2 separate regions of the Homo sapiens genome follow, and region 2 is linked to region 1. Evidence: fine-mapped expression QTL. Tissue or cell type: prefrontal cortex. Region 1 holds a variant in brackets; the other region holds the start of a gene. All regions are shown on one strand. Distances are between the middles of the regions.

Region 1 (2,825 bases):
ACATGGTCTCAAAACTTTTGCTAGTTTTAGATCATGACATTCAAAAACTATCATTATAGAATGAAGAACTGGCTCATTACAAAATGTCTAACCACTTCCATTAAATCTAGGATACAAGAAATTGAAACACTACTAGTAAAATTTTTTAAGTGGTCTCTTTGCTCAATGTTAATTCAGCTTAACAGCAGGACAACTATAAAAATTCAACTGAGATCAAAATATAGGTATAGGCACAAGAGTGTAGATATTTTTACATTTCATGTATTTCTGCCTTCTGAGAAAATTATCCTAGAGACCATGCTTCAAGATGAGAACACAAGTACAAATAAGCACAGAAGCCAACAAATAAACACCTCTCAGAAAGCAGACAGAATAGCAAATGTGGATACGTGAATCCATACACCAACTCTGGGTTTCTTGCACCAAAGCACAAAAAAAAAGTGCAGGCAATCAGAACAACATGTAACTCCCAAATTGTTTATACCTGATTCTGGAATGCATTTTGTTGTAGTGTAGCAAACACCATCCAGATTAGATTTTTTTGCTTAGCAGGGTTAGAAAGTGAGTTTGCATTTCTTATGTATTTACTAAGTGATGTTGTGAAGAAGCAATCCAAATGCATGCTGGTAAGAGCTCCTAAAATGCCCTGCAGCCCTTCATACCGATCTATCTCCCCCTTTCTATCCCCTCCACTACCACCCTTGTTCAGGGCCTTGATTCTTCTCTCTGGGACTATTTCATTGTGCTGCCTAATTGCTTTTCTTTAAGTACATATTCAACAATTTAAAACATTATTTTTATTATTGTAGAGACAGGGTTATACAGGCTGGTCTCTATCTCCTGGTCTCAAGCAATGTTTTTGCCTTGGCCTCCCAAAGTGCTGGGATTACAGGCATGAATCACCGTGCCGGGCCCATCTCCAATAATTTAACTCTTCTGCTCATAAACACTACTGCTAACTTAAACAAAAACAATCTTCGGGATTAAAAACATTCCTAACTCCCTAGCCACAGGATTGCTTCTCTTATACCTTCTGAAATTCTTCAAAATTCATTTGAAATGTGATTTTATATATTTTAGTATTTCCTTCTGCAACTAATTCTATGTCATTTCTTTGAACTATTTTTATTACTACTAACATTAATTGAATTTTACTAGGCTCCAGGCATGTTGCATGAATTATCTCTTAAAAATTATCACAGAAGCCTTATAAAAATAGCAAAATATGCCATTATTATTCCCATTTCTTGGATAAGAAAACATACCTAGGAGAATAAGTAACTTGTCCAAGGTCTTATAGCAGAAATGAGGTGCCAATATAATAAGCAGTCTGATCCCAGAATCTAAACTGTATCATCTGCACTCTTTTCCCATGAATGACTTGGGACTTACACCAGTGTGAGTAGCAGCAGTATCTCACTCATGGCATTTGTAAAGAAGTTGTAATGTTCTGCAAACTGCTCGGATTTATCATTTAAATTAGATGCGTCATCTAATTACTGTCTGATCTTAGAAAGCAACTCCTTCC[A/G]TTTAGATCTCAGTTTCATCATGTGTAAGATGATGATGGCAATGCCTCCTATACAATACTATGTGGGGATTAACTAAAATAACATATTTAAAGGTGTTTTGTGTACTCTAAAGTGCTGGTCATCCACAGAGAGATTCCTTAAGTGTCACACCAAGGATAGCAATTATGTCTTACTTGTCTTGTCATTCCTGTGGTGTCCAGCTCTGCTCCATTCCTGTGTAATCTTGGGCTGTGTGACTCCTTTGAGCCTCAGTTTTATCATCTGTAAAATGGGGACACTAATTGTACCAAATTTCAAAGCTTGATGATTAAAAATTCAGTCTTGCACCAGGCAAATAGCAGGTGCTCGATGACATTAGTTATTTTAACTATCACACAGATTTTTATTATTATGTATCTCAGACTCTTCAAAACATGGATGTTAACCTAAGTATCCTCCCCTGGCTCACTCTCAACCCATTTCCCATTAGTTACCCAGTTTTGCCAAATGGCCTCTGGAACACCATCTATTCTACTTTCCTTATTTGAAGACTTATTGCCTGCCAGAAGGAGCAACCTGAAATGCCAAACTCATCAGGACAGTCAACTCCTTGGAACCTTTCTTGACCCCCCTCACCTAGCAGATAGAGCCTAAGCCCCTGGGCCTGGCAGGACTTCATACCAAGTTCTGTGTGACATGCCCTCTCTTTCCATCCCCAACCGACTTAATTCTCTTGGAACATAAACGTGTCATCAAAACCCAGAATGAGATCATGAACTCAAAAACTTGGGATGACTCAGTCCAGATGTGGGTTCAAAAAAAATCGATAAGAGAGTCTTTTAAAAAAGAAAGAAAAGGTTAGTAATATATTGCAGTGTCTATATTATCATTAAATAGCGCAGCATTACCTCAATTATCTGGAGAGCAGTCTCTAGGAGAGCATTATATATTGGAACAAATCTCTATACCTGGATGTTAAGTCCTATCTGTCCCAGAAGATCTGTCACACAGCTCTCAGCCAACCCCCACCTATTTTACCTGAAAGTTTTCATTTAAAGTCCTCTTTAGGAATGATTCTTTCCCACACAACAATAGTGGGAGACTTTAACACCCCACTGTCAATATTAGATCAACAAGACAGAAAATTAACAAGGATATTCAGGACTGGAACTCAGCTCTGGACCAAGTGGAACTAACAGACATCTACAGAACTCTCCACCCCAAATCAACAGAATATACATTCTTCTCAGCACCACATAGCACTTACTCTAAAATTGACCACATAATTGGAAGTAAAACCCTCCTCAGCAAATGCAA
Region 2 (2,825 bases), 170 kb after region 1:
AAGAGCAAGTCCCAAGGATGTAAATCTCACCCAATGAGACAAGGGATGCTGAATATATTATTAATTGCTAAGTAATCTCTTAATCTTAGAATCTAGCACCCAACACTAGCAAATAAATAATGTGATTTATGAGCCTGCACTCTCACGCTGCTTTACTAGAGTTCAATAAACACATGCAGATCCTAAATGTACAGTGTGAATGTGATTCCTACAAGCCAGAAAACATAGAAGGATTTGGCTATAGCAAATCTACCCCATCTACTTATTATTCAAGCACTAGTATTTAGAATACCTAAAATTCCTGCTGAACACTGCGGATCAACGTCCCCCTGAGGTTCTCCAAAGCAGAACCACATCTCTTCCCCTCAGTGCTTACTGAGTTTTAAGAAGGCAGGTAACATGGGGTAGAAATTCTCGTGCAGCAGCAATATAACTCTTCTCTCCCAATTTTCAAAAATCAACACCTCCTCCCCATACACACGCACACACACACACACACACACACACACACACACACACACACACAAGAAAGGAGGGCTTTTTAAATAAGTGTTTAAAACATACCATTTGCATGGGTGTGAAAAATGTATTTTTCCTCTACTTGCTGTTGTTGTGTAAGATATTTACAGATCTGACTAGAAAATCTGGATGTTCATAGGAAGTGTTGCTTTCAATGAGATTCCTTTAGTGAAATCTGTCCGCACAGACACATGTATACATAAATAATACATATTTATGCACACATGCCTACATTAACAAGGACACATGCACACGCACCTAGACCAATAATTAAGCCCACACTGTTCTATAAGCTCTTTTTGACATTTTTTGCATACATGTTAATTCAGAAGACAGATTTTTAAAAAATAATAAGCAGCTGCATATAATGCACATCAAAGTGGCACGTTTAGAAAAGCAAATACATTACCAGACGCATTTTGAAGTTTCTGGAACACCTGCAGGTGAAAGGAGACTGGATCGGATGCTGGCACACTGTATTCCTCAGAATCACAGAGCGCAATGTGACTGTGGGGGAATGTGAGGCGAGTGTGAGGCTGGAAACCTTTGAGTTGAGCTCACTCTAGGCATCAGAAAGCCTCAAAGAGGGGAAAGAAAAAGGCAGCCCACAGACAGCTAGATGAGAAACTTCTGGCACCTCTCCAGCTCAGGAATGAATTCTCTGTAATTTGGAGACGTATAGTGATGGAAATGAAGAGAAACTTGGATTTACGGGTGAATTTGCTCAGCCATGCAGAAACAGGCAGGTAACAGCCTCTCAGCTCATTTTAAAACAGTCATTGAGAAACAAGACTGAATCAAAAAATTAAGAGGCATCCTGCTTTTGAAAAAATGAAAAGGCTACTCCAGCCAGCTTCCCTAGATACCTTTACAAACTTCAAATGGATCATTCCATCAGCTATTTGTTGCGCATTTTATTAATCCCAGTGCAGAGGTAAACTGGAAAATCTAATTCCTTTTATGTAGAAAACTAGATTTATTGCTTCTTTTTATAATGCACTTTAGACATATAAACACATAGATTTACTTGCAGAGTTCTCGTTTCTCATGTAAAACCACTACTGTTTGGTCCAGATAAAATGCTAAAAGGCTTGTTCACAGCTTTTCAAGGAAGTGGAGAAAAAAAAATGTTTAATACTCAGAAGCTGAGCTGAGTACTGATATTTAAATGTACAGTTTGAAGCAAAGAGAATATAAAGGAAGAGCCCTGAAACATTAAGTGGTAGCTAAGAGGTACGATTATATACAAGCATTGAGCAGGCAGGTGGCTTAAGTCTATAAATTTATACATAATTAAGCATAGGAAGAAAAGAGATTTGGCAAATTAAGTTATTAGAGACAATAGCTGTTATTTTGTTTAGGTTTACAAATAGGCTAATAATTTCTGAGGAGTGCACGTGGACATCACCTTGTCTGAAGAACTCCTAAACCTCACAAATAGAGAGCGAGGTCGAAGGCATTGCACAGTGGCAATCTATATTCAAATGTAATGAGGAGGAGGACAATATTACCATGAAGAATGTTGTCATATTACATTGTGCCTGTGTGGCTTAACTACTCATCCAACCTTGCAAATGGCCATTTGCCTGGACTCAATAGCAAACGTGCTATTGATGGGTGGGAGGAGGTGGGAGGCTGATTTTATTTGTTTTACCAAGGACACTCCTTTGGGAGGTTCGGGGATAAAATGCCTGGGCTGAGCATGGGAGTCATTCTGTTCAAGGCCACACATGCCTATAGTAAATTTGAAGTGGAATTAATGATGACCAATTAAGCTATTTATTATTTTAACTCTTGAGGTCAAGGGCAGAACAGTATTTATGTTTATTGATAAAGAGTCAATGGTCAGACTGCTGCAGAAGGCCAGACTCACCTTTAAGCACGCTCGATTGATACGTATTGACCGAGGCACCGCCAGTCCCCCTCACATTCCACTGCTCAGGCCTGTTTGCCTAGATTCTGTTCTTAGCTCTCCACTGCCATTTGTTTCATCCATTTGTTCAACAAATATCCACTGAATTACACATCAGATGCTGTGTAGAACACAATGACCCTTAAGATGAGAACTCCCTCAAGGGGCTTACCATTGTCAAATAGTACCACAAGGGACTCAGCAGGGGATGGACACAACAGAATTACTTACAAAATTCATGCTCACTGCCATCTCTTGCACTGTGGATTACCCTAGGTAGCATGAGGCAAGCAGAGTTCGGACATGTGTTTTGAAATTCTCTCCAGGCGATTCTGATGAAGTCCTCCCTCTCACCCATAACAGCAGCTGCAATTCAAAACTGCTGTTACAGAGC

Which allele goes with the higher level. Alleles are on the strand shown, and positions count from the first base shown. SD is a standard deviation of normalised expression in the study named.
With allele G in place of A in region 1, the expression in prefrontal cortex of the gene that starts at base 1,051 in region 2 is higher (moderate effect, 0.52 SD a copy in ROSMAP).

What was found. PIP is the estimated chance that this variant, and not a neighbour inherited with it, causes the effect.
Region 2: IQCJ starts here. The variant in region 1 is the best candidate, but not a certain one, in a credible set for the expression of IQCJ in prefrontal cortex (ROSMAP, PIP 0.75).

The regions. Positions count from the first base shown.
Region 1 is chr3:159,232,611-159,235,435 of GRCh38, reverse strand. The region is part of intron 1 of IQCJ-SCHIP1 (IQCJ-SCHIP1 readthrough); the gene reads right to left. The region is part of intron 1 of IQCJ (IQ motif containing J); the gene reads right to left. Among named protein-coding and RNA genes, the nearest start is that of SCHIP1, 39 kb to the left of the region's middle. The variant A/G (reference allele first, on the strand shown) is at 1,529.
Region 2 is chr3:159,067,545-159,070,369 of GRCh38, reverse strand. IQCJ (IQ motif containing J) reads right to left here and starts at 1,051. Exons shown (of 4, transcript NM_001042706.3): 1 at 929-1,051. The coding sequence starts at 937. It overlaps IQCJ-SCHIP1 (IQCJ-SCHIP1 readthrough), which reads right to left and starts at 1,051. Exons shown (of 10, transcript NM_001414413.1): 1 at 929-1,051. The coding sequence starts at 937.